6 separate regions of the Homo sapiens genome follow, and regions 1, 2, 4, 5 and 6 are each reported to be linked to region 3. Evidence: microRNA targets listed by miRTarBase, many of them from high-throughput screens and not tested one by one. Region 3 holds a microRNA gene; each other region holds the end of a gene's coding sequence. Distances are from middle to middle.
The links. Region 3 holds the annotated microRNA hsa-miR-526b-3p (GAAAGUGCUUCCUUUUAGAGGC, at 2,572-2,593, shown strand). A microRNA usually pairs through its seed, bases 2 to 8, with sites in the 3' UTR of a target mRNA and lowers its output. Matches are read on the target gene's strand: a 7mer-m8 pairs with bases 2 to 8, a 7mer-A1 pairs with bases 2 to 7 and ends in A, and an 8mer does both.

Region 1: miRTarBase lists PCNX2 as a target of hsa-miR-526b-3p. Seed matches in the 3' UTR shown: 8mer at 4,292-4,299.
Region 2: the mRNA of RLIM is a reported target of hsa-miR-526b-3p. Seed matches in the 3' UTR shown: 8mer at 2,849-2,856, 7mer-m8 at 1,678-1,684 and 7mer-m8 at 344-350.
Region 4: the mRNA of FXYD5 is a reported target of hsa-miR-526b-3p. The part of its 3' UTR that is shown has no 7-base or 8-base seed match.
Region 5: the mRNA of SANBR is a reported target of hsa-miR-526b-3p. Seed matches in the 3' UTR shown: 7mer-m8 at 2,859-2,865.
Region 6: miRTarBase lists PFKFB2 as a target of hsa-miR-526b-3p. Seed matches in the 3' UTR shown: 7mer-m8 at 3,480-3,486 and 7mer-m8 at 3,606-3,612.

What each region holds. Positions count from the first base shown.
Region 1 is chr1:232,979,573-232,984,647 of GRCh38, forward strand. It overlaps PCNX2 (pecanex 2), which reads right to left. Exons shown (of 34, transcript NM_014801.4): 34 at 3,863-4,905. The coding sequence ends at 4,732. NTPCR (nucleoside-triphosphatase, cancer-related) reads left to right here. Exons shown (of 5, transcript NM_032324.3): 5 at 1-4,310. Among named protein-coding and RNA genes, the nearest start is that of NTPCR, 31 kb to the left of the region's middle.
Region 2 is chrX:74,587,044-74,592,112 of GRCh38, forward strand. RLIM (ring finger protein, LIM domain interacting) reads right to left here. Exons shown (of 4, transcript NM_016120.4): 4 at 1-5,069. The coding sequence ends at 4,397. Among named protein-coding and RNA genes, the nearest start is that of RLIM, 25 kb to the right of the region's middle.
Region 3 is chr19:53,691,872-53,696,946 of GRCh38, forward strand. MIR526B (microRNA 526b) reads left to right here and starts at 2,522; the gene lies at 2,522-2,604. MIR519B (microRNA 519b) reads left to right here and starts at 3,342; the gene lies at 3,342-3,422. It overlaps LOC107985342 (a long non-coding RNA gene), which reads left to right. Exons shown (of 3, transcript XR_007067332.1): 3 at 2,158-2,751.
Region 4 is chr19:35,168,700-35,173,774 of GRCh38, reverse strand. FXYD5 (FXYD domain containing ion transport regulator 5) reads right to left here. Exons shown (of 9, transcript NM_014164.6): 9 at 3,894-4,209. The coding sequence ends at 4,160. Among named protein-coding and RNA genes, the nearest start is that of FXYD5, 17 kb to the right of the region's middle.
Region 5 is chr2:61,121,633-61,126,707 of GRCh38, reverse strand. SANBR (SANT and BTB domain regulator of CSR) reads right to left here. Exons shown (of 22, transcript NM_001129993.3): 22 at 2,428-4,582. The coding sequence ends at 4,546. Among named protein-coding and RNA genes, the nearest start is that of C2orf74-DT, 21 kb to the left of the region's middle.
Region 6 is chr1:207,071,480-207,076,554 of GRCh38, forward strand. PFKFB2 (6-phosphofructo-2-kinase/fructose-2,6-biphosphatase 2) reads left to right here. Exons shown (of 15, transcript NM_006212.2): 14 at 30-94; 15 at 725-5,075. The coding sequence ends at 892. Among named protein-coding and RNA genes, the nearest start is that of C4BPB, 15 kb to the right of the region's middle.

The DNA.
Region 1 (5,075 bases), not on the chromosome of region 3:
TTATGAACTAAGCCCTCAAAAGGGCTACCTGCCCAGGAGGAGGAAGTGGGCATCTCCTTCCACAGTCCCTGCCTGGCGGGGCTGTTCAGGGAGACTGAGTTCCGAGCTCAGGATGTCTGGCAGGCTGGCTGTGACTTCCAGCCACCATCACCAGGACACCGGTGTGGGCTGCATGCCTCAGTGGGCCAGGAGAGGCACGGCCTCTGAGTTGGGTAGAGGCTTCCCACAAAGGCCTGGGAACCTGATCCTGGCCGTAAATCTGAAAGTACCACAGCCCTCAGGAGAACCAAGAGATAGGGAGGCAGGCTGGGGAAATGTCATCAATGTGCACCCAGGCGTGGTGGAGCTGGTCAGCCCCAGCTGGAGTGGGACCCCATCAAGATGGAGCCTTTCCTGGCACCTCCGGGAGGCCGTTTTGCGTTTCCGCCCTTCATGCATCTGAAACACCAAGGGCCATGTTCCTTCTGGTGCTTGTCCTTTTGAGCTTGGTGTTTCAGCCGTGTCTGTTTTGTAGACTTTGATTTTGTCTTAAATGAGAAAGAAAGCTGGTGAAGGTTATTTCAAAGTTAAATAGCTAGTCTGAGGGGCTTATCACTGAAGCCAGTTGTGCTTATGTGGGGTGGGAGTGTCACTGCCTACTTGAAAGTATGCACTTGTGTGGAACAGATTCAGGGTGGCCCCTAGCACTTGGGGCTGCGGGAGCTTCTGCACACTTTCCCTTTAACGGTAAAGAGACAAGCTTGGAGTGTTTAAGTGGTTCGTTCAGGAGCACAGTGATAGCGGTGACAAAGGAGATTTGAACCCACGTCTGCGTGGCTCCAAAGTTCACTCTTTCATCACTCCCTGCTGCGTCCTTCTTGAGGCTTTAGCATTTTTAGTGTGTTTTGTGCCCCCAGACCTCAGAGTTGACATTTAGCAGTGATAAACTGCTGTAAATCCAAAGAACGTTTAGTGTCTCTTGTGGTGAGGTCCTGAAATGATTGTTGTATTAGTCAAACAGAATGATCATGGAGCATGTATGGAGATGTCAGATGCAATCCCTGTATTGTAAGGCAATGACATTTAATGAAGGATAAGATGAATTCACAGATAACTAGAACTCAGGGCCAAACGCACACAGCCTGTAGCAACAGTGTCATGCTGAGATTTAAAGGAAGAAGAGGTGCCGTGGCAGAACTCCACGTGACCGTCCCCTCCCTGCACGCAGCCAGGATGAGAGGAGCAGAGCTGAGCGCCACCTCCCTGTCGGTGCCACGGCTGAGGTGAGGAGCTCTTGCCGGATGGTGGGGTGGGGGCAGCAGGGCAGATTGAAGTCAGGGATTCTCTTATACCTGAGTTTGGAATGCCTCCTATTCAAACAAAGCAAAATATCTAACAGATGGTTGGATATGAGTCTCAGGGAGGAATTCAATTTGAAAAGCACAGAATTAACATGTATTGCTTATATGAAGAATCTCAGCTAGAATAACAAGGTCGGATGGGAGGAATCAGGACTGATTTGAAGCACGATTTACTAAATCATTCTTTCCTTTTCCTCCTTAGCAGATCATACCGCCAGCTGCTTAACACGTAATAGTTTAATAAATTGTTTCTTCTTACCTCTCAGTGAGGGTAAGCACATGCAGGGAGATGGGTGAGTCTTTTAAATGGATAGTGTCATCTCTGATGATCAGCCTTGACAGGGAGAGATCCTAGTAAAGCTGCAAATTCAGGCACTCAGTTCCCAGCCCTCCAGTTATCAAGGGGGTGGGAACGCTGGTGGGCTGGAAAATGTGGAACAGACCTGCTCCTCTTCTTTTCCTGCCAATTACCGTATTCATAGAAGGTTGTGTCTGTGGATCACACCTGTGTGTGTGCTGATGGCGGATGCTTGTGTAGCATAGTGACTTGGGACAAAACAGCATGGTAGATGAGGCTGGAGACGGGTGGGCTAAGTAAACAGGCATTGCATTGCACATTTTGTGGGCAAAGAAGTTGAAGCATCGCATGATTTTAACAAATTACTTGCCAGATGATTTCAACACACTGCAAAATTTAGAATCAATAATGCCAAATTGGCCACATGATTTATATAAAACCAAGTGCTATGGTTTTAATATTATCTTTAGAGGAGAAACCATTTTGATCTGTGTCCAAATAACTCTTTTTTTTTTTTTTTTTTTTGAGACAGAGTCTCACTCTGTCGCTTGAGCTGGAGTGCAGTGGTGCTATCTCGGCTCACTGTAACCTCCGCCTCCTGGGTTCAAGCGATTCTCCTGCCTCAACCTCCTGAGTAGCTGGGATTACAGGCACCCGCCACCACGCCCAGCTAATTTTTTGTATTTTTAGTAGAGACGGGGTTTCACCATGTTGGCCAAGCTGGTCTCGAACTCCTGACCTCATGATTTGCCTGCCTCAGCCTACAAAAGTGCTGGGATTACAGGCGTGAGCCACCGTGCCCAGCCCCCAAATAACTCTTGAACTGGAAAATAACTCTTTAGCTATATACTGGCAGAATATTTGAACAACTCTAGCAAGAAATGTCAGTTTAGGGATGCCTCCTCTAAATGGGGGCTTAGAATATAACATTTTGCAGGAAGTCCTTTCTGATACATAGCTGACTAGATGAAGGACCAGATTAACAAGTTCATGAGTTGTAAATATAAAAGTTGTGTACCACGATAAAAAAGAAAAAGAAGTATGGCTGCACTGTTGATGGCTGGTCAAACAGCCCCCAAGAATCCTGGGGTGACTCCAATACTGCCACCTTTTCTCTGTGGGTGCAGTTGCCTGCGGATGTGTGTGCACATCTGTGCCTCGGTATGCACACTCGAGATGCCCGCTCTCATAGACGGTGCAGAGCGTCACTGCATTCCTATCTGATTAATGTGACCTTAGTGTTGTAGATACACTGTGTCACTTTCATCCTCCCTCCTCCCCACAAAAGATGCCACGAGAACTCGTGAACTGTGATAAGCAATGAACAGAATAACTGTTGAAGAAGCACCTCATGAACCTCCCCAGAGAAACGGGATGGAGGAGCACCCAGGGTGCTCTTGCTCTCTTGCCTGCGCTGCCATTTCCTTCCAGCCTGGGTTTCTAGCTCTTTGGGGAGATTCCCCGTTTTGTGGAATGCTTTCTGTGTTTCCTACTTCTGGATGCCTAAGGAGTGGCCAGTCATACTCCTGGCTGACCACTGCCAGGCACCGTGGTTTTCCTCACTGAACTCAAGGAGTCACCCTCCGTGGGGAGGCCACACTCACAGCTCCAGGCCTGCCATTTAGCCCTTGGGGCTTGGCTGTAAAGTTGCCCAAGAGGATTACAGGAGCTGCCAGCCAAGTTTAATTTGGCCACCTTAGAGAACTGCAGCAAGGCCCTATCAGCTTCCCATTAGACAAACAACTGCATTTAAATTAAATAAAGTTTGCACCTCTAGGGAGTGCTGACCTGAAAATAAGAACCTTCTGTCTGTGATTATAGAGTACACTTGCTTTTATTAATTGCTGATTCTTAGTTTACAAAAAAAAAAATTAGAAAAGCATTACCATTTACTTTCCAAGGGGCAAGAGATTCTCTACAATACCCTTCCCCCAACCCTCTCCTCAAATTTCCAAATCCTAAATACTTTGAAGAAATTTGTGTGACTGTTTAAAATTGAGTATTTCCTTCTAACTATTGTCTTTTGAAAAGGGATGGTTCACCAGGCCAGTGATACTCTATGGACTGCATTTTGGGACCTCTACCCCAGCAAGGATACAGGTTCCTGGGGTCTTGAAGATGGGAAAAGTTGTCTCAGAATTTACCCAAATGTCGTTCTCACCATAAAAGATATACTTGTAGAAATGAGAAGCTTCAGTATAACTCAAAACACTGGACGCAGCAATAACTATAAACATTTTAATTTCAAAAACAAAGGTGTGTGCGATGTTGTGTGCACAGTAAGGGTTGCGGGGCTTGGAGAACAAGCACGCGTCCCTGTGAAGCCCGCAGGGTGCTGGCGGCCCACCAATCGCCTGGACTACAGTGAGGAGCATTGTGTGACTCCGCGGTGGATTTCCATGCACCGAATGGACTCAGTTTCTAAACTCACATCCTAACGTATCCTGGCTTTTCACAGAATACTGGAGACATGACTGCATGCATGATCACGGTTCTTGTTGTGAAGCTGCCACCATGTTACGCTTAACAGCTGCATAAATATTATAAAGAAATAGGGTTTTCTTGACACTTAGATTTAACCTTAATGCATCTGCCCAGCTGATGGTATCAGACGTGCTGCTGTTCATTTCTTTTTCATGGTAACAGTAATGTATAAAGTGCCGATGATGTAACATGCAGTTGTCTTATTTTCATCAGGGCATTTGTTTCATGGCTCTGTTGAGTTGTTTTAAGTTAGTGAATGGCTTTTGAGATTTCAGATTCTGGAACATGTGTGGTGCTGTCCGCGGTGTGCCGCTCTGGGCAGCGCTGTGCCTGGCCAGGGAGGTGTGGTGTGGCTTCTTTGTTGCTTTTTTTTGTTTCCCCATCATGTGAGGTTTTTTTGTTGTTGTTGTTTGATTTTTTTTTTTTTTTTTTTTTTTTTTTCAAAAACCTGAGATCAGTTCTGTGTTCTGGAACAGCTCTCCTTTTCCACAGGAGGAGTCCCTCATGGATCGCGGTATTGGTTGGTTGTGGTGATTTGGGGAGCACGAGGGAGAGCAATGCAGGTGGGAGGTGTGGGGGAGCCAGCCTCCCCGCCCGGCCGCACGCCCGTCACTGCTCGTCTGACACACTTTGCTGCGAGGCCGTGTCGTCCAGGCCCATGTCCTCCTGGCTTGCTCTCCTGCAGACAACCCCGAGAGTGTCCGCCACAGCCTCAGCCAGACATCGGTCATGAAGCTGCCCCTGCTCGGTGGCATCAGGGGGCTCACATGGCTCGGAGAGGTGCTTCCAAAGAGAAGAGAGAAACAGTGAACAGCTCAGCAAACGTTCACTACCCACTTCTAACTGGCATCACCCCCATCCGTGCTGTGGGAGCTAAAGGCTAGCGCTGCCATATCCTTGAGGTCAGGTTCTAAAGTCAGGTCAAATGATAGAGGGCCAGCACAGTGGCCTCT
Region 2 (5,069 bases), not on the chromosome of region 3:
CCACTGCACTCCAGCCTGGGTGACAGAGCAAGACCCTGTCTCAAAAAGTAAAAAATAAAATAAAATAAAAATAAATAAGTGACATACTAGTTCCTCGGATCTTTTACTTTTTTCCAAATGAAGTATGCTGTCAATTTACATTTTTCATGTTTTTTCAAAAGCACACAATTTACTAGTTAACTCAATGAATTACAATACTGTTATTGAATATAAACATACTGAAGAATTAAAGGGAAAAAAACACACCTGACACTTTAACATGTGCCTTAACAATCTTGCATACTAAGGTACAGAATACTTCAGAAAGTAACAATTAGCATAGTCTTATAAGACTAGGAGAATAAAAGTGCCCTGCAAACATGGCTTCTATGTACTTAATATGGTAAAACATGTGACAGGGAAGCCTGTAAGGTAAAACTTAAAAAAAAAATCAAATAAGGCAGATTATAATTTTTTTTGTTCGCAAAAGAACAAAGGAGAAAAGGGGAAGAATAAAAACATTCTCCATCTTTAAAAGAAAAAATATTAACAACCATAAGGTGCCACTGTATTTTAGCAAGCTGTAAAAATGGCCTTTTAAGAGGAATTTTGCAATCTTTACCTCCCTATCATTTGGGTATTTTGGGAACTGACCGAAAGTCATGGCTGATGCTTCACCCATTTCATGTCATGGACGCCTGGGAAGCAGGTAGTTAAATACAAAGCATATTATGTGATAACCCTTCATAAATATAATTTGAGACACTGACACTAGGAGAGGATACTTGGCACAGAAAAGACATGTTATGGGGCGGGGGACACATTACTTGAGGCAACACTTACAGCCAATCAGTTTCCTAATCTTAAGGTTTGGATGAATTCCAATCGTTTTTAAAAACTGTGTGTGTACACACACATATTTTATTTCCTGGTGCTAAAGGTCTTATAAACTGTACAATTACCTACATTCCAACACTAATGTGAACACTTTTCTCAATCCCCACCTCCATTAACACCATTAAGGTGTAACTAACATGTTCTTTTCAGAGCAAATATTCCAAATTAACAAGGTGGCTCATCTTCTATAGTGTTGATACAAAGTCAGCAAACTTTTAACTTAACTTGCTCAATTTTGTTTCTAATAGTACTAATAAACCTCAACTTTGGCTGGACATGGTGGCTCACGCCTGTAATCCCAGCATTTTCGGAGGCCGAGGCAGGCACATCACTTGAGGTCAGGAGTTCAAGACCAGCCTGGCCAACACGGTGAAGTCCCCATCTCTACTAAAAATATAAAAACTAGCCAGGTGTGGTGGCATGCGCCTGTAATCCCAGCTACTCGAGAGGCTGAGACAGGAGAATTGCTTGAACCCAGGAGGCAGAGGTTGCAGTGAGCCGAGATCGCTCCATTGCACTTCATCCTGGGCAACCAAGTAAGACTCTGTCTCAAAAAAACAAAACAAAACAAAACAAAACAAAAAAACCTCAACTTTGTCAGCTGCTCAGAGTTAAAACAATTCAAATGTTTCAGACTAGAAGTGAGTTTTTAAAAACATCTGAAATATTCAAGAAAATTTGGGTTTTGGTACTTTTCCTTATGCTCTGAACAATGTGAACTCCCAACATTGTTTATCCTTGTTCCTCTTACTGCATGAAGTTCAAACTAGGTCTTAAAGACAACTTTTCTGTACTTAAGAAAAAGTGCAAAGATAGAAAATGAAATGTAAGGTGTTTTGCAAGAAATGCTCCCTCGAGAATGGTGTTTGGATGTGGGTGGGGGGAAAACGATTTTTGTTCTCCATTGTAATCTGACACCTACGAATGACCTTGTCTTCAATGTCCACAACACTAGTAAGCATGTAATAATCACGGACATCGCAAGATTAAAAATTAAGTAGCAAATTCCACTAAAACACTTGTATTCATTCTATACAATCGAATGGAAATCCGTGAGTGCTACTGAAAAAGGTGTTCACATGCACATGTCCAATATGTGCATTCCACTGAAGGCTAAAAGCTTAAAATTCTATTTCCAGTGTTTATGAATAGCTTCAATATCTACATTCATAGCCAGCATTCTGCTTGAGTTACCTCTTACTTTAATACTTCACAAATGAGTAAGTACGTCTTGGGAGATTAGGAAGGTACCTGTTGTCAATAACTTTCTCTTATGCTTAGAATGTGCTGCAATTGTTTTTAAACTATTTAAAATGAACACCCCTATAATAATGAAACACTTTATGCCAAGAAGAAAATTGATTTGTTTTTAGCCAATCAAGACTACCCTGCAGATCTGAAAACTGTAGATTACATCCTTAGGAAAGGAGAAAAGGAGGCTCACAAATATAAAGGAATCCTGACTTTTACACGGACAAATTTTTAAAAAGATAAAATGTATTACATAAGCGCCATAAACAGTGAAATCTGCTTATATTAAAAAAAATAAGTGAAGCTTTGTTTGGACATTATTTCCTTGCAAGAGCAGTACATATCCTTAGTAAACAACTACCATATTTACAAGTTAATTTCCTTGATACTTAGATAGGATTGAAAGCCAGAAGAAATCATGGAAGAGTGAGCTTTGAAATAATCTTTACAGCTAAGTTGGTAACAGTGAAGGTACCCAGACAATTCCTAAAGCAGACTTGTTTATTTTGTAGAGTATTTGACTACGTCTGGGTAGCTAGCTTGCTTTGATAAAGGCCAAGGACAAGTTCAATCCCTATTTTGGCCTGTTAAAGCTTTTCCCAGAAGAACAAATATCTGCTCCATAGTCATTCTAATCCTAACCCCAGCTAGTCTCAAAAAAGAAATTAGGCAAGAAGACTGGGGTTATCATGAAGTTACTCTTACTACTAAGAAACCAACATAAAGTGCATGTCCATAGATAGCGAGTCAGCAGTCTCATTTTCATATATGGGCAGCACAATTAAAATTTGAATTTCAAATAACCCAACATGACTTTCAACAAAGGATAAAAATCCCTTAATCTTCAACTGGTCTTTAAATTTGAGATGTTAGGACTGTGTTAGAGATAGTAATGAAATATGATCAAGTGTGCACTGGTACCTTAAATGACAAATCTCAAAAACAACACAAATTCGAGACTTTCCTATTAACACACACATGTGTACCAACTGCAATTCATATGCTAAAAGTGGTTTTATAGTCTCTTTCCTCCATTTTTTCATTTTTGAGGAGCAGACTTGTAAATTTAACTTGTGCTAGGTAGTAGTGGTTTGTTTTTCTTAAACCAAAACTCTGCCAAACTTGCTGATCTTCTGCTTCATCTACTCAGGTAGAATACCAGGTCAAGCTGCTGCTGTGGCTGCTCTCACCATATGAAACCAGTTTGTGTCTGCATTATTACTGTCTTCAGGAAAACTTTAAATTCTTCAGTTTTCTTTACTCCTCCCATATTTCACTTCCTGCCTAAATCCAAGTTAAATTATACAATTTCCACTGGTCTTCAACACGGTTTAATTCTGCACTGTCCTTTCCTTTGCATGTCACAGTAGCTGTTCACACATTAAATATTATAGATATGTTCTGCTCTTGACATCTACACACTTACAAAAGCAGCTTTGTACTTTGTTTGGTGTGTTTGTTACTATGTTGGCTCACAAAAAGCAGTTTTCTCAGTTCTAAGCATGGTACTTTACAATTTTTAATGCATTCATACAACAGTGCATTGGAAAAGTACTGAGCCTCTACAAAATAGCTTTACATTTTTAAACAAATGAATGTGATTTTTTTTCACTTACACAAGCATAGGCTTTTTAATATTTCCACAAGATAAATATCTCAATTAAACTATAAGCTCACTCTACAGTGTGCCACAGTGATGGGCTTAGGAGACAGTTATACACTTAGAAGATCCTAACCTTAGTGTTATTTACACTGACATGTCCAGTATCACCAAGTCTGAAAGGTGAACAAACAATACTCAGAATGTGGCTGAATTTGTGTTAACTAATAACTGGGAATGATATAGCTTTAATCACTTATGAAACACATACTGTAACTTAGTCTAAACTGGTAATTTCCTTTGCTCCTCTCTTATGGTGTGGGAAAATTTAAAGATCAACATGAAAAAGGAGCCATTGCTAAGGCAGATCTTTTAAGATAACAAAGGAAAAATTGACAAGTGTATATGATAAATTATCAGTAACAGTGATGCTACCAATTTAACTGGTACGGAAATCAGATTTTTAGGTCCTATAACGTGGCTTTTAAAATATTTCCTTTTATTCTGGAACAAAAACTGGAGAAAGGACAATGATTCCTTCAGAAAGCAATGACTCAATTCAGGTTGTTACTTTACATTTAAGTACCACTCAAAAAGTGGACATAAAAGCAAGTGATTCCTGTTTGCCCATCACTATATCAGCTACATAGCTGAGAGTTCAGATCTTAATTACACAACACTTTCTCTGTTACCAGAAGCTAAGACTGCTCTGCGACAAATAGGACAGGTAGAATTCTCAGATAACCAGCGATCGATGCAGTGGACATGGTACTCATGGGAACAAGGTAGTTTACGAAGTTTGTTGCCTTCTGTATATTCTGTAATGCAAACACTACAGGTTTTTAATGCATCATTTTCACCAAAACTTCTCATTGCCAAGTTGTCAATCTGTTCTTTGGTGAGTCCTCTAGGTTGGTCATCATCATCCTCATTTAAGAGGAAAAACTGAGCCAGGCTAAGGAAGGGCAAAGAGCCACTTTCATCAAATGTGACTGGGGCCCTATGTCGACCCTCTCGCCTGGCACCTGATGAGCCTGATGATGAGCTTCCTTCATTACTGCCTTCAAATAAATCTGAGCTAGTTTCTGAACTTTCACCACCGGAACTGGAACTAGGACTGGAACTGGAACTTGAACTGGAACTGGAACTCGAACTGGAACTGGAACTCGAACTGGAACCAGAACTACTACCACCACCAGAACCTCCTCTTCCACTCCGTGACTCTGCCCTTTCCATATTTCGATTTGAGACTGAGCCAGTAGGCTCTGAGTCGCTATCACTGTACATAAAATAGCTTAACTCACCAAAACCTGTCATTATCTGCCTTAACATGGTCTGAATT
Region 3 (5,075 bases):
GTCATGTCATACAATGGCCTCCCATCAATTTAGTATAATCAATCCAAACCATGGTTCCTTCATTAAGAGAGTGGGTAATCCTCCAAGTCCATCCAGTCTATTCTGTAATCCCCAGTGGGTGTCCGTATTGATACAATTTCTTTTTGTTCCTGTTCACTCGTGTCTTTTTAGTGTAATCTGCTTGTCCGTAACACTGAAATTTGTTTTTCCCCAACATCTTGCCATCATTTCTCGGAATAGACCTGCTTTCTCTGCAGGAAGGGTGTAGTTGATTCAACCCTCACCCACTAATGCCAACCCCAGTGAGTTCTTTGACTGTAGCTGCCATGTTTATCCTATTTTCTTTGGGTAACGATTCCAAGGTACCATTCCAATGGGCTTAAACCTTGCATCTAAATGCCAGTTACTTGCTAAGATGTCAAATGTGTCTTATATTAGCTGTGGCTAATATAAGAAACTGTTGTAGACAAGATGAATCTCAGTCACAGTGATAAATGTAGCATGCAACAAAACCAGTTGTTTTCACAAAAATCTTGAGGACCCTAGAAGGGGCTCCCTCGTAACAGGTGGAATGCACAGCAGCTCTTCTTGTTGCCATAGTGAGCGATGCATGTTCTTCCAGTCCTCAACACCTTTTATTTATTTATTTATTTATTTATTTATTTTATTATTATTATTTTTTTTTGAGACAGAGTCTCGCTCTGTCACCCAGGCTGGAGTGCAATGGTGTGATCTCAGCTCACTGCAACCACTGCCTCCCGGGTTCAAGCGATTCTCTTGCCTCAGCCTCACGTGTCGCTAGGACTACAACCGTGCACCACCACGCCCGGCTAATTTTTGTATTTTTAATAGAGACAGGGTTTTGCCATGTTGGCCAGGTTGGTCTGGAACTCCTGACCTCAGTTGGTCCACCTGCCTCAGCCTCACAAAGTGCTGTGAATACAGGTGTGAGCCAACACGCCCGGCTATCAACAACTTTTCCTACGTAGAAATTATTCGGGCACTGGTTTATAGAACCTCACGTGGGTTCACGTAGAATTGAAGGGGACCTCAGCGTCCCTTGCAGATGGGATGTGCAATGTATTTGAGATGTACTCGAACATTGCTGTTGAGGTGTGGGCATCTTTTGCTTTTTCCTAATTTTAAATATGGGACTAGTCTGGGTATGGTGACTTCCACCAGTAATTCTAGCACTTTGGGAGGCTGAGACAGGAGGATCACCTGAGGTCAGTTGTTCGAGACCAGTCTGGCCAGCATGGTGAAACCCCGTCTCTACTAAAAATACAAAAATTAGCCGGGTGTGGTGGCACTCACCTGTAATCCCAGCTACTCGGGAGGCTGAGGCAGGAGAATCACATGAATCTGGGAGGCGGAGGTTACAGCGAGCAGAGATCACACCGTTACACTCCTGCCTGGGCAACAGTGTGAGACTCTGTCTCTAAATAAATAAATAAATAAAAATAAAAATAATTAGGTGAATATGGGACCAGCATGGACTTGGGTGTCGCCTTTGTGCAGTGGCCAGGATATTCTATGTCATTTAAATTTTTTTATGTGTACTTCCAAAGCAAGCAGTTATGTATAGGAATTATTCTTCCTATAAGCATGCAATATTTGGAACTTTCTTTGAGACAGGGTCTCAAAAATACATGATGTATATTTCATTTTATATTCTTATATATTATGTACACACAAAATACTCTTCTAAACACAGAGAATACTCCGATATCACCTAGGGTGTGTGTGCGTGTGCGTGTGTGTGCGTGTGTGTGTGGTTCTTTTCTGAGACAATATCTGCCTCTGTCACCCAAGATGGAGTGTGGTGGTGCAATCTCGGCTTACTGCAACCTCCACCTCCCACCTAAGCCTGCTGAATTAGTCTCTACAGGCATGCACCACCACACCTGGCTAACTTCTGTAATTTTTGTACACATGGGGTCTCGCCATGTTGCCGGGGCTGGTCTCGAGCTCCTGAGGCAGGTGATCCTCCTGCCTGGGCCTCCTAAAGTTCGAGGAGTTAGAGGTCTGAGCCACTGGGCCCCACTTGTACTTGTGTATTTCTGCTCAAATTTTATTGAGTAGTTTTTACATCCTAGCCTGTGATCTACTCTGGAGAGTGTTTGTGCATATGACAGTGTATATTCTTCAACATCGTAGACTCCATTTTGGATGCTCCCTTCGTGACTGTGGGTCCTGTACTGGAACTCGAGTGAACACTTGGCTTAAAATCCATTGCTGTTCTCCAGAAATCCTGCCCAATTTTCTCGGTTAAAGGTACGTGTAGTAGGCATTGCTTTTTCTCTTTGGGGACAAAACTCAGGAGGATTGCCCCTTGATGAACAAGGCTAACCTGCTGATTCTTTGAAGCAAGGAACTGGAGATGGTCCTTATAGAGTTTTATATTCTGGATTCCATAAAACATGCATACAGGGTCAATAAATGCATCTTTATTTTTGTGTCTATTTTAACTTGGTCAAAGAAAATTCCAGGAAAAAATCCACGGCATCAGAGCAAGAAGATGTCAGGCTGTGACCCTCTTGAGGGAAGCACTTTCTGTTGTCTGAAAGAAGAGAAAGTGCTTCCTTTTAGAGGCTTACTGTCTGAGAAAAGCAACGTTGTAGTTGATGCTGATCTTTGTAATATCTTTGCAGAGCACGCTTATAATCAGACTTGGATGATGTTGGGGTTTTGTTTTTCTTTTGTTTTTTTATCTAAGACTGGGTCTCTGTTGCCCAGGCTGAAGTGCAGTGGCACAATCTTGGCTCACCACAACCTCCGCCTCCCGGGTTCAAGTGATTCTTCTGCCTCAGCCTCCCAAGTAGCTGGGATTATAGGACTGCGCCACCATGCCTGGCTAATTTTGTATTTTTAGTAGAGACAGGGTTTCTTTAGGAGCTTTTAAGGCCTCCCTTGTAGTCTATCCTGGAGGATGTTTGTGTGTGCAACAATGTATATTCTTCAACATGGTAGATTCCATTTTGACTGCTCTAATCAGGACTGTGTGTCCCTGTGCTGGAAATCAAGTGAACACTTGGCTGAAAATCCACTGCTGTTCTCTAGAAATCCAGCCCAATTCTCTTGGTTAAATATAAGGTATGCATAGTAGGCATTGCTTTTTCTTTCTGGACACAAAACTCAGGAGGATTTCCCCTTGATGAACAAGGCTAACCTGCTGAGCCTTTGTAGGAAGGAACGGGAGATGGTCTTTTTAGGGGTCTATGTTCTGGATTCCAGAAAACATGCAAACAGAGCCAATAAATAGGTCTTTATTTTTGTCTCTATTTTAACCTGGTCAAGGAAAATTTCTACAAAAAACCCAGGGTGCTGGAGCAAGAAGATCCCATGCTGTGACCCTCTAGAGGGAAGCGCTTTCTGTTGTCTGAAAGAAAAGAAAGTGCATCCTTTTAGAGGTTTACTGTTTGAGGAAAGCAACAGTGAAGTTGATGCTGATCTTGGTAATACATTTGCAGAGCATGCTTATCATCAGACTTGGATGATGGTGGGATTCTGTTTTTATTTTGTTTTTTTTTCTAAGACAGAGTCTCTCTTGCCCAGGCTGGAGTAGGGTAGCACTTCCAACGTAGATCTTTTAGGCTCAAACGGTCCTCTTTTTTTTTTTTTTTTTTTTGAGGCGGAGTCTTGCTCTGTGACCCAGACGAGAGTGCAATGGCGCGATCTTGTGTGCAAGCTCACCTCCTGAGTTCAAGCAATTCTTCTGCCCCAGCCTCCCAAGTAGCTGGGACTACAGGTGCCTGCCACCACTTCCAGCTAATTTTTGTATTTTTAGTAGAGACAGGGTTTCACCACGTTGGCCAGGCTGGTCTCAAACTACTGACCTCAAGATCCACCCACCTCAGCCTCCCAAAGTGCTGGGATTACAGGCGTGGGCCATTGTGCCCAGCGGTCCTCTTTTTTGAGATGGAGTCTTGCTCTGTGACCCAGGCTGGAGTGCAGTGGCAGGAACTTCGCTCCCTGTACCCTCCACCTCCCAGATTCAAGCCATTCTCTCCTGAGTCAGCCTCCCTAGTAGCTGAGATCGCAGACATGAGCCACCATACCCAGCTAATTTTTGTATTTTTATTATTTATTTATTTACTCATCGATTTTTGAAACAGAGTCTTACTCCGTCCATCAGGCTGGAGGTCAGTGGCACAATCCCACGTTCAAGCAATTCTCCTGCCTCATCCTCCCGAGTAGCTGGGATCACAGGCGCACACCACCACGCCCGGCTAATTTTTGTGTTTTTTTTGTTTGTTCGTTTTTTTTTTTTTTGTAGAGACAGGGTTTCAACATGTTGGCCAGCCCAGTCTCCAACTCCTGACCTTAAGTGAGCCCATACACAATCAAGAAGAGAGCGAGACCTGTTCTTTTTTTCTGTCTTTGACTATTTGAGACAGTCTTGCTCTGTCACCCGAGATGGAGTACATTAGTGTGATCTTGGCTCACTGCAACCTCTGCCTCCTGGACTCAAGCAATTCTCTTTTTTTTTTTTTTGGAGAAAGAGCCTCTCTGTGTCTCCCAGGCTGGACTGCAGTGGTGTGATCTCAGCTCACTGCAACCTCAGCCTTCCAAGTAGCTGGGATTGCAGACATGTACCCCCATACCAGCTATATATATATATGTATTTTAGACACAGTTTCACCATGTTAGCCAGGCCATTCTTGAATCCTGACCTCAGGTGATTTGCCGACGTAGGCCTCCCGAAGTGCTGGGATTACAGGTATGAGCCACTGCACTCAGCCTTTTTTCCTAATTTTGAATATGGGACCCATTATGAATTTGGGTGTCACCTATGTGCGGGGGCTATGGAAATCTCTGTCACCCCATTCATTTGTGTGTGCTGTCAAAGCACCAATATGTGGGAATTATGCTTTATGTGAGCATATAGTATATGGAACTTTGGTTTTTTTTTATACAGGGTCTCAAAAAAAAATGAGTATATTTCATCACAATGTTCTGTGTATAATTCCATACACACAAAATAGTCTTCTATACACAGAGAACACTCTTATATCACTTTGGAGTTGTTTTTGTTTGTGTATTTTGTTTTAATTTTTATGAGACAGGGCCTGGCT
Region 4 (5,075 bases), 19 Mb from region 3:
GGCCAACCCCACTCATCCCCCCTTGAGTTAGTACCGCCTCTATTCTGCGCAAGGAAGCTGTCAGGTATTCTCCTGAACTGACGTGGTAGCACACAACATGGCTTTAGGCCCCAAACAAGGTAAAATCATGTTGAGTCACATGGTCAGAAAGTAAATCACCTTTGAATATCTCTTATGTTTTGTTTGTTTGTTTTTGAGATGGAGTCTCACTCTGTCACCCAGGCTGGAGTGCAGTGGTGTGATCTCGGCTCACTGAAAGCTCCACCTCTTGGGTTCAAGCGATTATCCTGCCTCAGCCTCCTGAGTAGCTGGACTACAGCATGCACCACCATGCTTGGCTATTTTTTGTATTTTTAGTAGAGATGGGGTTTCACCATGTTGGCCATGCTGGTCTCGAACTTCTGACCTCAGGTCATCCACCTGCCTCGGCCTCCCAAAGTGCTGGGATTACAGGCATGAGCCACAGCGCCCGGCCTTGAATATCTCTTAATCCATCAAATGAGATGAGGGAGAAAGTCTCTATAGTAAGGAATTAATTTTACCCCAAAGGGCTGACTTCTGGCCTTGCTGTTGGAAGGTAATCTCTAAGCCCTTGGAATGTTCTGCCTGATAAGAGTGTCTCTATTTACATAGGGACCTAGGGCCACACCAGATCATTTCTAACAGTGTGATTTCCATTGAGGAATGTGGGCCACACAGTATCAGCTCCACCCCTGGAGGGGCTGGAAACTAATGTCGGCCACACGTGTGGTCAATTACGTCTATGTGACTGAGCCCCAGTAAAAACTCTGGACGCCAAGGCTCGAGTGGGTTTCCCTGATTGGCAACACTCTGCGTGTACTGTCCCACATGGGTGCCCGCAGAAGACAGCGCTGGGAGGAGACAGCTGGAAGCTTTGCACTTGGGACATTCCTGGATGCTTCCGCATGTGTCTCTGTCCTCGGCTGGCTTTCATCTGTTTCCTTTCACTATAATAAACCCTAACTGTGAGTCTGAGAGCATTCGGTGAGTTCCGTGAGTCCTTGTAGTGAATTGTCAAACCCTCGGGAACCCTCAAACCCGCAGCTGGTGTCAGAAGTGAGACTCACAGTCAGAGCTGAGAGTTCCAAAGAAACTCCCAAACCCTGCAGTTTCTTTGGGCAGCAGCGTGAAGATCACCTCCCTGATATTTGAGGGTCTCCCTCCAACACCACAGACCCAGGCCTCTGGTTCACAGCCCTCTGCAAGAAACTCCAGACCCAGCTAGAATGCAACATAACATCTTCATTTCTTTTCACTGGATTTATTTATTTATTTGACAGAGTCTCACTCTGTCACCCAGGCTGGAGTGCAGTGACACGATCTCAGCTAACGGCAGCCTCTGCCTCCTGAGTTCGAGCAATTTTTGTGCTTCAGCTTCCTGGGTAGCTGGGACTACAGGCGTGCGATACCACGCCCAGCTAATTTTTGTATTTTTATATAGTAGAGACAGGGTTTCACCATCTTGGCCAGGCTGGTCTCTTACTCCTGACCCCAAATAATCTACCCACCTCGGTCTCCCTCCCAAAGTGCTGAGATTACAGGCGTGAGCCACTGCGCCTGGCCTTGGATTTATCTTTATAGCTATCTTCTATCTATATCAAGCAGTACTGATTTTCCATACATGATTGTGGCTTTTAAAATAAATATGTTTAAACTAAAAAGGGAGTTGATCTTTTAAAAGAGAGAATAATAGTACAGATGGGGTGAAAATATGTCATAAGTTGGGAATATGTGATGATTGAAGTTTGAGAACTATCGTACTAGAAACATCTTGCACACACTGGTGTGGCCACCACCCAGCCAGCAGGCAAAAATAGCTGCCAGCATTTCCTGTTCTAACCGGAAATTTATCTTCCCTGCCACAACCTATGTCCCCCACTGCCCAGTGCTTCTCAACGTTTTCAAAAAGCAACCTGCAGTATGAAATGCATTTCATATCACACTATCATGTATACTGTTAGGTTGAGCCATATGACATTGCTAGTTTTATAGGTCAAACACATTTGAATATTGACATTTTCAAATTATTCAACTTAATATATATAATCAGGCTGGGCATGGTGGCTCACACCTGTAATCCCAGCACTTTGGGAGGCTGAGGCGGGCGGATCACCTGAAGTCAGGAGTTCGAGACAAGCCTGGCCGACATGGCGAAACCCCATCTCTACTAAAAATACAAAAATTAGCCAGGCGTGGTGGCGGGCGCCTGTGATCTCAGCTGCTTGGGAGGCTGAGGCAGGAGAATCGCTTGAACCTGGGAAGCAGAGGTTGCAGTGAGCTGAGATCACTCCACTGCAGTCCAGCTTGGGTGACAGAGCAAGAGTCCATCTAAAAAAAAAAAAGAGAAAAAAAAAGACATAATCCATTGTATATGTAAATGTATACTCATATCTAGATGACATCCCCTCCTGATCAGTTAGACATCTGTTCTGCTTTATGTGGTAGGTGCAAATAATGAAATAATTTTAGTATCCCCCTGTATGTGTATAATATACATATTATAATGAAGATATGCATACATATATAATGTATATAACATGCTACATATTATATATACAGTCTTATATTTGAGATTAGTGATGCAGTAATAACATTTATAGTGATGCATTAATAACAATTATATATGTTATAATTGTCATATTCTATACATTATATATAATTATATTGCATATGATGTATATGACATGCTATGTATATTATATATATACAATCTTACATTTATTAGTGATATACTAATGTCTTTTAAAAATTATTCTTTCTTTCTCTCTTTTTTCTTATGCTACTCAGAGCCCACTAAACTGATTTAGTAACCCATGAATGGGCTATGACCTGAAGTTGTGAAACACTGTTATGTAAGCCCTGTGACCGGGACCTTGTCTCTTGATTTTGGCACGACCCTTAAGCCTGAGTAGAGCTCTGGTCTAAGTCCTGCACTTCAGGGGACCTGCTCTGGCCTAATCTGGTCGAGCCCAAGGGCCTTCAGGAAGTGCCCACCAGCACCTATGCTCTTCTCGACCATGTTCTAGATCCCTAGGACCCCTGAATTCCTCTCCCAAATTGCTCTGCGCCCATGCTGGGGCCTGCAGGGCCTTCTTGGTGGACACATTCCTAAGCCAAGAAGTGCCCTGGAGGGTGGCCATTTGTGTATTGGGGGCTGTGGATAGAGCTTGGAGGTGCAGGCTGTGGCATCCACACTCATGTGTGCAAGGCCCCTCCCGGTGTGGGAAGGGACTAGAAGTAGGAAGGAGAGGGGATCCCTGTGATCTGGGACCTCCAAACCCTTAAAAATGTTAGGGGTGAGCTGACACTGGGTACCTGCTCCCTTATGGGGACCACGCCAGTGTTCTCAAACTGACTGCAGGCAGAAGCCAGCCCTGACTCTCTCTCTGGCCAGTCACCCAGCACACAGACTCACCTGCAACCGCCCACCGCCATCCTGTCTGCCACACACTAGACTGGCTTCCCTAACTTTATTCCCTGCCTTGGCTTGTTATATTTTTCTTTTTTAGAAACAGGATCTCACTCTGTCACCCAGGCAGGAATATAGTGGTGCAATCACAGCTCACTACAGTCTCGACCTCCTGGGCTCAAGCAGTTCTCCTGCCTCAGCCTCCTGAGTAGCTGGGACTCTAGGCACGCACCACCATGCCCAGCTAATATTTTTATTTTTTGTAGAGTCAAGGTCTCACTATGTTGCCCAGACTAGTCTTGAACTACTGGCCTCAAGTGATCCTCCCGCCTTAGCCTCCCAAAGTGCTGGGGTTATAGGTGTGGGCCACCACGTCCGGCCTTTGCTTTATTCCTTGAGGGCCCTGAGGCAGCCCCTGCCTCCTCTTTCCACTCCCCTGTCCCAAATGATCAGAGATCCTGGGGCAAAGACCACAGTGCTTTACTTTTTGTCTTAGCAGAGGAGATAACTTGAGGGACAGCCCCCAAGGCGCCAGGTAGCCTTCAGGGGCGGGCAGGGTTGGGGGAGGTAGGAGACTCGGACCGGCAGCCCTGGCTCCAGCTTCATCATCTGTGTCTTCCCTCTCTGGCCAGGCTCTTCGAGGGGATGCAGGAGGCTGGGCACGGTGAGCTGGCAGGGGGCTTGGTCTTCGGGTGCCCAGCAGGTTGTCAGCTCCTGTTTCTGATGGACTCACCTGCAACGATTCCGGCATAACCGGGACAGCTGCCTGCACTTGCCACCTGTGGGTGAAGGAAATGATTCAGTCACGAGCTAGAGTGATATTGATTCTTATCGTGTGTTGTGGGGCTGGGGAACCAGATTGATCAACCCTGCCCCTCGGGAAACTCAAAGGCAACTCCATAAACAAATGATGGAGAAACACACCGAGAACAGCCAGTGCTGGGGCCCTGCGAGAGGCCCTTCCCACACAGGCTCACAGATGAGCCGTTTGGAAACTCCCATTATTTTGTATCTCACTTATTCATTCATTCAGGCACTAAGAACACAGTTGAGGACAAAGAAAAAAATCCCTGCCCTGGCAGAGTTGTCTTTCTATGGGGAAAGACCAACAAGGAGAAAAATTACAAAATCAAATGTATGAAGGTGCTAAGTGGGAGGGTGTTAAGTCCTACAAAGGGAAATAAGGCCAGGAAGGAGGCATGGAGGCCCAGGAGCTGGGCTCATCCTCACAGGGATGGCTACTGGGGCTTCAATGAGGAGGTTACTTTTTTTTTTTTTTTTTGAGACAGAGTCTTGCTGTGTCACCCAGGCTGGAATGCAGTGGCACAATCTCAGCTCACTGCAACCCCCACCTCCTGGATTCAAGCGATTCTCCCGCCTCAGCCTCCCGAGTAGCTGGGATGACAGGCATGTGCCACCAAGCCCAGCTAATTTTTGTATTTTTAGTAAAGACAGGGTTTCACCATGTTGGCCAAGCTGGTCTTGAACTCCTGGCCTCAAGGGATCCACCTGCCTCAGCCTCCCAAAGTCCTGGGATTACATACGTGAACCACTGTGGCCTGCCAAGGAGGTGACATTTGAACAAAGGTCTGAAGGACGTAAGGGAGACACCTGGAGGAAGGGTGTTACAGGCAGAGGGAACAGC
Region 5 (5,075 bases), not on the chromosome of region 3:
GCTGCAGCCTCCCAAGTAGCTGGGATTGCAAGCACCCGCCACCACGTCCAGCTAATTTTTCTATTTTTTAACAGAGATGGGGTTTTGCCATGTTGGTCAGGCTGGTCTCAAACTCCTGACCTCGTGATCTGGCCACCTTGGCCTCCCAAAGTGCTGGGATTACAGGCGTGAGCCACCGCGTCCGGCCTGAAGGTTGGATTTTATTCTAGGTTTGATGGGATGCTATTAGTGTTAAGCAGGGGAGTGATGTGATCTGAGCCACATCGAAAAATCACGAACGTCGCTTTGAGCACAAGTTATACAGAAGTTGAAATGGAAGCTGGGGAATTACTTATGAGGCATTTGTAGTACTTCATGAAAAAGATGTTAATAACTGGGGGTGGTGATAGTGGAGATAGAAGCAAATGGATGTGGAGTACGTATGGGACTTGCTGATAAATTGAATGTCAGATGTGAAGAAAAGAGAAGAATAAGGAATACTTTCTAGATATTTGCCTTGTGCACTTCGGTAGGCAATAATGCCATTTACTGAATTGGAAAAGAATGGGTTTGAATAAGCAGGGAGTTTGGGGGCAGGAATGGGAAGAGATATCACAAGTTCTGTTTTGATTATGTTAATTAAGTTGGAGATACCTACTGGTACTCCAAGTACAAATGTTAAGCAGTTGAGTAAACAAGCCTGAAACTACCGAAAGTGCACTCGAGTTGCCTGCTTTCAGTCTGAAGAAGCTGCCAGTGAGGCAGGAGGCCTCTAAGAGAAAATTTTCAGGCAACCCAAGGGAAAACTATTTCAAGAAGGTGTTGGAATGTATTGATAGACCCAGATTCCAACCCCAGTATGTAGTTTACTATGCCTCACTGAATGTTCTCTTCCACCTGTAAAATGAGGATAATGCCCAATTTGGTGGCGGGGGCGGGCGTTGTGAGGCTAAAGGAGATAAGGAATGTATCAGGAGCATGATCTTTAGCATAACCAAAGCATTCAACAAATAGCAACTACTAGGACCATCACCTTCAGTTTGGTAAGAATTGGCTGTGTTCATGAACAAATAGTAAGAAGCAAACTGGCTATATTTTCTCAAGGAAAGATACATCTTAGAAAGAGAGCTGCTGTTAGACTTTGCTATGGCCTTCACTTACTGTCCTTCAGTTGAAGCCTCTTTGAAAACAGCATAGCTCCCTACCACATAGTTCCCTACCACGTATCAGGAAACAGTATTCTTTACCTAGCTCTTTCTACAAATGCCACTTACTTTGCCTAAATAAGACATTTGATATGATTTGCTTGTAAGTTTCAAATGATGCCATAGAAACCACGAAAAGTATTAGGTGCCTCCTTTCTTGCACTAAATACATATACGCACACACATACACAGTCTTAACTCAAGTTACAGGAAAAGGGATATGAAACTCTCAAAGAATTTAGGCTACCTTCCACATGTTAACATAACAATGCAACAATAATAGCAAACATTTATGGAGGGCTTACTATAGGCCAGAAAGTACTGTGCTAGTTGTTTTAGATCTATTAACTTATTTAATTGCCCCAAAATCTTATAAGGGTGGAATAATATTATTCTTGTACCATCTTCCCCAATAGATCAGCTTTAAATAGGAGAAAGAGAGTTAGCCTATTAGAATTAAACTGGCTAGCTATCCCAGTCCTGAGAAGTGTGACACAGTTGCTCAGTGAATAGCTGAAGGTTGGCTGCAGAATTAATTCCAGGAATTAAACACAAAATACATTTTTTTTGGTTTCTTTTTATATTATAACGTGCCTTTAGTAGACAAGCTTGACAGAGCTTCAGCCTCAGCTTCCAAAGCAATAAGCACATCTCACAGTACCTGGCTGAGTATTGTGAAGAAGGAAAGTAACAAATAAATGCAATTGTGTACAATCAGCATTGTTATCAGATCATCTTTTCTGAAATATTTTAACCCTTAAATGTTTAATAAATCTTTACCAGCATAACCTCATTTAAAATAATCTTTTTTTTTTTTTTTGATAGGGTCTTGTTCTGCTGCACAGGCTGGAGTGCAGTGGCACAATCATGGCTCACTGAAGCCTTGCACTCTCAGGCTCAAGCAATTCTTCCACCTCAGCCTCCCTAATAGCTGGGACCACAGGTGTGTGCCACCATGCCAGGTTAATTTTTTTAATTTTTATTTTTGTAGAGACGAGGTCTCACTATGTTGCCCAGGCTGATCTTGAACTCCTGGGCTCAAGCAATCCTCCTGCCTTGGCCTCCAAAAGTGCTGGGATTGCAGACGTAAGCCACTGTGCCTGGCCTAAAATAATCTTAAAACTCAAAAATTTCACCTTGTAGCAGAGATAATTTTCCATGAAAACCTGTGGAATCTAGAGCTACTCCAGACTTTTTTTCTGAGAAGATGGAATAATTCAGATAAAGAGACTTTCCAAACAACTTTTGTCATTAACATTTATTTCAATTAAAGAAATGTGAATCCAGGATTAATGTAAGGTGAAATATTAAAGTATCTGGCGAAAGAAATGCTATTAAGAGTTTAAGTAAAATGTTTGCGGTACCAGTGCTATGTATAACAGACAAACATTAACAAAATTAAAAACACATTCTTTTTTTGTTTTAAATTGAGATGGAGTCTTGCTCTGTCACCCAGGCTAGGAGCGCAGAAACATGATCTCAGCTCACTGCAACCTCTGCCACCCGGGTTCAAACAATTCTTGTGCCTCAGCCTCCCGAGTAGCTGGGACTACAGGTGTATGCCACCATGCCTGGCTAATCTTTTTGTATTTTTAGTAGAGATAGGGTTTCACCACGTTGGCCAGGCTGGTCTCAAACTCCTGACCTCAGGTGATCTGCCCGCCTCGGCCTCCCAAAGTGCTGGGATTACTGGCGTGAGCCACTACACCTGGCCAAAAGCATTCTGAAGAGAATCAAATTCTGATAAACTCTGGTTTGTAAAAATTAATTCAGTGGTATAGGCCTCCCAGGGGAGAAGCAGTTTGCCTTTTTACCATCAGTTAAAAATCAAAAGAGCATATATATTTTTTCCTTATCTAGTCGTGACCATTACAGCACTGTTTACATGTACAAATCCAAATCCTTTAATCAGAAAACACAGTAAACTACAAAAAAAACTCTGGTATTTAACAGAGTACTTACATATAATATGTACTACAAGACATTTTCTTTCGAAAATAAAAGTCTATTTCCACAGTATCAAACAATTGAAACAAATATAAATGGGAACAAAATTTCTAAACAGCAGTTCAAAAACCTTGGCAAAGCCAGTTATCAAATAACATCTAGCTTCATTTATCAACTAAAAGACTCACTAAAAAGAATGATTTCTGTACGTGTAAACTGAGTGTAACACTTCAATATTTCAATGGAAATTGCTCTTTTGTCACACATTATTAAAGTCTGTTCTCTGAATAATTTGAAGAAATGTCAGTTATAAGGCAAATTAAGACTTAAAAAAATAGAAACAGTGCATCTTAAAGTTTTTCAGAGACCTACATATAATTTACAAACACATAATTTATTATATGGTTATAGTTTGGAACAAATTTTCCCTGAGCACTCTTTCTGCCTGGCTAGAAAAATTTAAACATGATTTATAAAATAGAATTTTATTTTGATTTTTCTTGAATATATGCAAATTTTCACCTATCTAATGTATTTGGAAAATTTTAGACCGAACTAGCAAGTATAACTGTTTTAAGGAGTTATTTGAATGGTTACAGAAATATGGTTGGGTTTTAGAGCCCTGAGAACTGTACAGTGGGTGTCTCATATAACAGAAATGATTTACTATCCTAAAACTATCAATGGTTATTTTACCAAATTCAGAATGCCACTAGTTTCACAGAGGACAGAGTAATAATCAGTAATTCCAGCTCAGATGATCAATAGATAAGCATTAAAAACTGAAAGAAAAAAAAGTTGGATTAACATTGTACTTTCCACGATATAATGCTGAAAAAAATTAACCCTTCTGCCCAACACAGTACTGAAATACCTTACCCTGAAACTTCATTTAATGCAGTCTTGAGACCTGTCACTCCTTAATATTCATGCAGACTTAAAATTAGCATCATTGGGAATTTCGTCACACAACCTGCAGTTCTCAATGCTATCTCAAGATTTACAGCTCCAAAGACATACTACAATCAGTGCCATGCATGGTAACACTACCAGTTGTGTTCCCCTAACTTTTAAGGTCTTAAAAAAACTTGGCTACCTGACAGTTTAGGCCTTTCTTTTTCAAATAAATAAAGGAAAACACTGGGAGTCTCAACTATGCAAATTTGTAAATAATTGCTTTCTACATAGCCTAGAATGATATTAGAAGAAAATCAGATTTAAAAAGTTTCATATTTACAATTAGATTTTCATAAAACCTAACTATGCATTTCTTTTAGAATTATGATTTATGTGGATTAAAATAATAATAACATAAAACAGTTGGAAGTCATTGTTCTGAAGATCTTCAAGAAGTGAGCAATTTCAGATGTCCAGAAGAGTGCCTTCTCTCTTTTTACTTATATTTTAAGGTACTTTATGCAGGACGCCCTTGACCAAAACGACTTTTAGACCTAGATTTTTTAAACAGAAAAGGAGGTCAGAATTGCTTCTAAAACAATAGGAAGTTGGTGCTCCTTTAGATTATGTTGGCTTGGCAACATCAAGGTTTAATAAATCTTCTTGCAGCTCCGTAATCCATTTTCTAAAACTCTTAACAGGAGATGTATTTTTGGAATTGAGATTTGTTACTTCTCAGAGATAATACGTTATGTACATTGTATATAATGGATCTGGAGCAGTGCCCCATAATCAAATATAAGTGGGATGAATAAAAAATATAAATGGTATCACAGCAGCTCAGTGCAAGTTTGAATTGCTACAAATGTATGAAAACACTTTCAGCTTTTTGAACTTTCTGGATTTCAGAATCATAAATAAGGAATTAGAATCTGTAATATTAATGTTCAAATCTCAGTAACTGTTAATCTCTAACAGAAAATTTGTGATGTAAAATGACATAAGACCCATCAGTTAGATTTTATTAAGAGAAATAAAATATAAAGC
Region 6 (5,075 bases), not on the chromosome of region 3:
TAAGTCCTCTCTTTCCTCTGTTTTCTCAGGGTGCAAAGTGGAAACAATTAAACTTAACGTGGAGGCTGTGAACACGCACCGTGACAAGCCAACTGTAAGTATTTTCCCACGATGAACACACCAGTTTCCCTGCCACCTTGAGTCTCTGAAGCTTTGACATCAAGAGACTGGGGTTTCTTTTATGTACAAAAGGGAAACAGATTCAGAACTTACGTCCAAATGTAGTTTGCTACGTCTGAAACTGATGTTGGAATTATTTTTTTTTTAAATTAGTACCCCTTTCATGAGTCTTAACCTTGAATGTTGGCTCCTGGAAATCCAATTAAATATGGAAAGTGTTTGGCTGAAGTGAAATGCAAATTACTACCCCCCTCCAACCCCAAGTGTCCCTTTAGAAAGCAGAGTCCAGAGGAGCCTATAAGGTGGGGGTCAAGAGGTGTAGGTTTGTTCCTAGGTCTGTCACTGGTAATCTGTGTGGTCTTCAATAAGCCCCTTCCTTTCTTTGGGTCTTTTTCCTGCTTTGGAATGTTATGCTCAAGGAGCTTCTCCCTTTTAGCCCCCTGATGCTAGGAGGCCAGGCCATGGGCCATGCCCTGTGAGGGACCCTGTGTGCAGAGGAGCAGGAGTGAGGGAAGCTGTTGTGGTTACAAGCGCATTATTAACCTGTATGAGTGAGCTTTTGGCTTGGCTTTCATTTGTGTGGTGTCACTCCATTTCCAATCAGAACAACTTCCCCAAGAACCAAACCCCTGTAAGGATGAGAAGGAACAGCTTTACGCCTCTGTCCAGTTCGAATACAATAAGGCGTCCAAGAAATTACAGTGTTGGGAGCCGGCCCCTCAAGCCCCTCAGCCCTCTCCGTGCCCAGGACATGCAAGAAGGGGCCGACTAGCCGAAGACCCAAGTCAGCATTCCGGTGGTGTAACTGTGTGTTTCCCTCCAGCCCTGGCCTCCTGCCCTTGTCACTAATCACCAAGGAGTCATTAACTTCCTCCCTCTATGCCCACCCCTGACACTTCACCATTAATCTTAACACAGAACATGAGGTTATGTGTTTATAGGACAACTTAAGCTGTTCTTCAGTTTGAAACATCTTTTCACCCAGGGGCAAGTTAGCAAATTGAGTCTTTTAGGACAGATTCTCAGATGGGATGATCTGGAGGAGGAGGAAAAAGATACACTCCCTTGGGGCTGAGCATGCCCCACACTCTTGGATCTTCTCTCTGTTCCCTGGTGTCTTCACTAATGTCCTCATGTTGGTGAAGTGTTGGGGGATGGAGGGCGGGTGAGCAGTCGGGGGACAAAAAGTCTATTTTTCCTTCACTTTTGTCTCTTCAATGTGTGTTTTCCTCACACTCCTTACTTGACTGCTTTCTTCCCCCACTTTCATGTCCCCTCTGGATTGTCCAGTGTAATGCATGGCATTGTGGTGTCTGTCTAGGAAGGAAGGGGTGATTGACAAGAGACAAGTCTGGCCCAGTTAATGCTTTCTGCAGTGGGTCTAAATGGATCTGGACTGGAGGAGTCTTTCCTTTCCTTTCTCCCTTCCTCTCCAGCCAGGTCCTGTAAGGGCCAGCCCAGACTACAGGACATCCACAGAATATTCTGGAGCTTGCAAGTAGACATAGGGTGAGAGTTCTTGCCTCCTTTCATGAGAAACAGTTCTAAGTCTTCGATGCCCTGGGAGAATCTGGCTCTGAGCATGTGGGAAATGTCTTGGTTTTTATTTTTAATTTAGAGTCAGGCCTGGGTCTTTTGAGGTCTGCAGAGTGGGGTTTAGGAGAGTAGGGTGGGCTCTAGCTCTTGCAGGGCTCTTAGAGAGCAGTCATGTCTTTTCTCCCATGACTCTCAGGTTCTTTGCCAATCACAGCAACTTTTCCTGCCAAAGCCAGTATCCTCTGGGGCTGTTTAGAAGGGCAGTTAGATTCAGGAGTCACCACTGATGTTTGAGTTGCTCAAGGCAAGAGGCAGAGAAGAGTTCACTAAAACTGCTTATTTTTGAATAATTTCAGCACACTGTCCTTAAGAAGAAAGAAACATCAAAACAAAATAGTTTTTACATGACCATTTTTTTCCCAAATGTGGAAAAGCTTGATGATGAATTTAATCTCTCTCATTGGAGTATTCTTTTGTTCATAAAGAGAAACTATCTCATCTTGATGTCCAGAGAAGTCCTTGGAACCCTGTGGGATCTAGCTCGTAACTGTTTGTATTTCTCTATTCACTTCTGTCATTTCATTTTCTTTGTAGGGTTAAACAGAAAATGTTTAGGGAAGAAATTCTTAGCCCCTTGATGACCATGATGGCTTATTCTCTTTCCCAATTTTGCATGCAAAATGTACGAATATATGTATGTTTTTCTGAGAGGCAAGTTTAGGGTTCTCATGGGATTTTAAAAAGAGATAGGTGACTCCCCACCTTAAAGTTATCTGCTGGTCTTTTAGAGGTAACCAGTGAGAAGGAGTTAGCTATTTTCCAAGGGTGTTTTCATTTGGTAATGGAAGACTTTTTGCTGTGGTTCTCATCCAGGAGTATTCCTTAGAATTGCCTTTAGGATTGTTGAATCATAAACATGCCTGTGTCCACCTTATGCTTAATACTGACTCAGAATCTCTGGGATCTGGGTCTGGACATGCATGTATTTAAGTAGCTTCCCGGATGATTCTGATTCATAGCTCGGGTTAAGAACTCCACCTTAGGAAGTTAGGTGGAAAAATACTGGATAGTAGTTTCTCAGACAAAAGTGTCAGCCTAGGAATTCTGAATTCCTCATAGTCCTGAAAGGACAGTTCTTTGGGTTTGATGTTTGAGCAGATCATAATGTTAAATGATATAACCCCCTGGAAGGCAGGCTGCTGTGTTTTAGAGGGTTATTCTAGGTTCTAGTCCCATCTTTAACCCTTTACATTGCTGAGTGATGTGGAACAAATCACTGAATTAAATAATTGTCTCTAGAGAGCAGCTGGGGATTTTAAGCACCCTGGAGAGAGGTGCAGACCCTGCCAGGATGATAAAGGTTGTCATCACTGGCAACTGACTCCTGACCCCGGGTCCTTTACTCGTATGTCCCAAGTAGGATACCATAGGCAGCTTCTAAAGGCTGCTTACCTAGATTCTTCTCAAAATTGTGTCCAAGATGTTAAGTAACCTGCTATTCCTGTTTAGTGGTTACATAACATGTACTTAGTGTCTTTGTGGAGCTTTGGGCTGGTAGGGGCAGGGATAGGGGAAAGCTAAACAGAAGTAGAAGAAAAGGTCCTTGTCCAGAGGAAGGTTATTTTAAGAGACAGGACATGTAATTTATAACAAATGGACATTTGCAATATAGCAACAGTCTGAGTCTAGAAGTGTTCAACCATCACATCGCTTCTCCTGACTTTTCTGTTGTCCTATGGCTATGAGACTACAGGGGTTGGGGGATGGGGATGCCCCCACCACCACCAGTGTGAGAATGAGATATGGTTGGGGAGGCGTGTTTGGCACTTTTACAAGGTTGCATTGTCCACATTTGCTTGGATGGTGGCATCTGTAGCCCAAATGGGCATTCAGTCTTTTCTTCTGCTGTGAGGTAAGAGTAATTCAGACCTAATGAATGAGAAGAGGGAGCACTTTGATCCACAGACTTTGGATTAACACTGTACCCACTCTTAGCAAAAGGGGACTTCTCTAACAAGCTAGCATTGTGTTAACCTGTCATTAACCCAGCATTAGAGACAGGTCACTGGGATGTTCATTCTGGCTCTCAGCCTGCTGTTATTTCCCCACTCTCACCTGTGCTAGTTCGCTTTCTCCAGAAGAGGAGCTGAGGTGGTCTTATCCTCAGATAGGACATGAGAAATTGGAATTTGGCAAGCAAGGGCTTCAGCATCCTTTAGTTTCTAAAGCAAGATCCCTTCAGAGAAGTCTAGCAGGAAGAAGCCAGGAGAATGTAGAATGGAAAAGAGCTCTTACTCCAAATTTTAGAGAAGTTTCAGCTCTACTTCTCATCTTTTCTCTCCTGGTCTTACTTGAATGCATGTTGGTAATCTGTATACATTACTATGACTGTGTCTATCACAAGTCCTACAAAATAAAAATGGACTTAAAAGTACTCTCTGCTGAGGCTGTAAGTTTTGTTTTGTGAGAAATAGGTAAAGACATTAGCATTTAATCTACTGGAATAAGCTGGTTGCTGTGGCTTATACCTGTAGTCCCAGATACTTGGGAGGCTGAGGCAGGAGAATCACTTGAGACCAGCCTGGGCAATATAGTGAGACCTCACCTCTAAAAAAGTTTTTTATAAATTTACTTGTCTAAAGTGGGGAAAGGGAAATTATTCTGTTTTCTTATTCTTGCTTCAAGACTATGACAGATTTGAAAGAGAATTCTAAAGCAGATTTAGAGAACCTGCTTCTCTTCTTATCTCCTAATCCCTAAATTGTAATTTAGCTCTTATCTGTATTGTTGTTTTGTTTTGGTAAAGGGATGATTTTTACATTGAGTTTTAAAGTAGAATAAGAAAAGCTTCTAAAAACTTGCATTGTGCTAGGGATCTGCCCTATATCTTTGCCTCTGGTGTTTCGTTGTTGTTGTTATTGTTTGTTTGTTTCCAAAGAAGTTGGAGTTAAGGACACAATATATTTGTACCCCTAGACTGAATGGGTGAGTATTCCATATGAGGATCTGGGTAATCCTCTTTGCAACCCACATTTGGTCTTCAGAGACACTGGCATTTTGAAGAAACATATGATATAGCTGTTTGGAAATAAATTCATCTATGTTACTTTTTTTTTCTTTTTTTTTTTTTTTTATGAGCAGGAGATCTTAATTGACAGAAACTCATTGGTGGTTGGAGTGGCCAATGGGCACGGGAAAAAGTATCCAGTAATCAGAAGAATTGTATCTGGGTTATGTAATCTTATGCACATTCCATTGTCTTTGCCAAGCCCAGAAGCCATGTTGTGTTCATTGTTAAGAAATTTGATAGATTTACCCAGCTTTTCTATGTATTTTGACTTATTGAAAATATGTAACAACTGAGTCGGGTTGCAGCACTGGTGGGGTAGAATCGACTTTCCCTGAAGGTGACACAGATG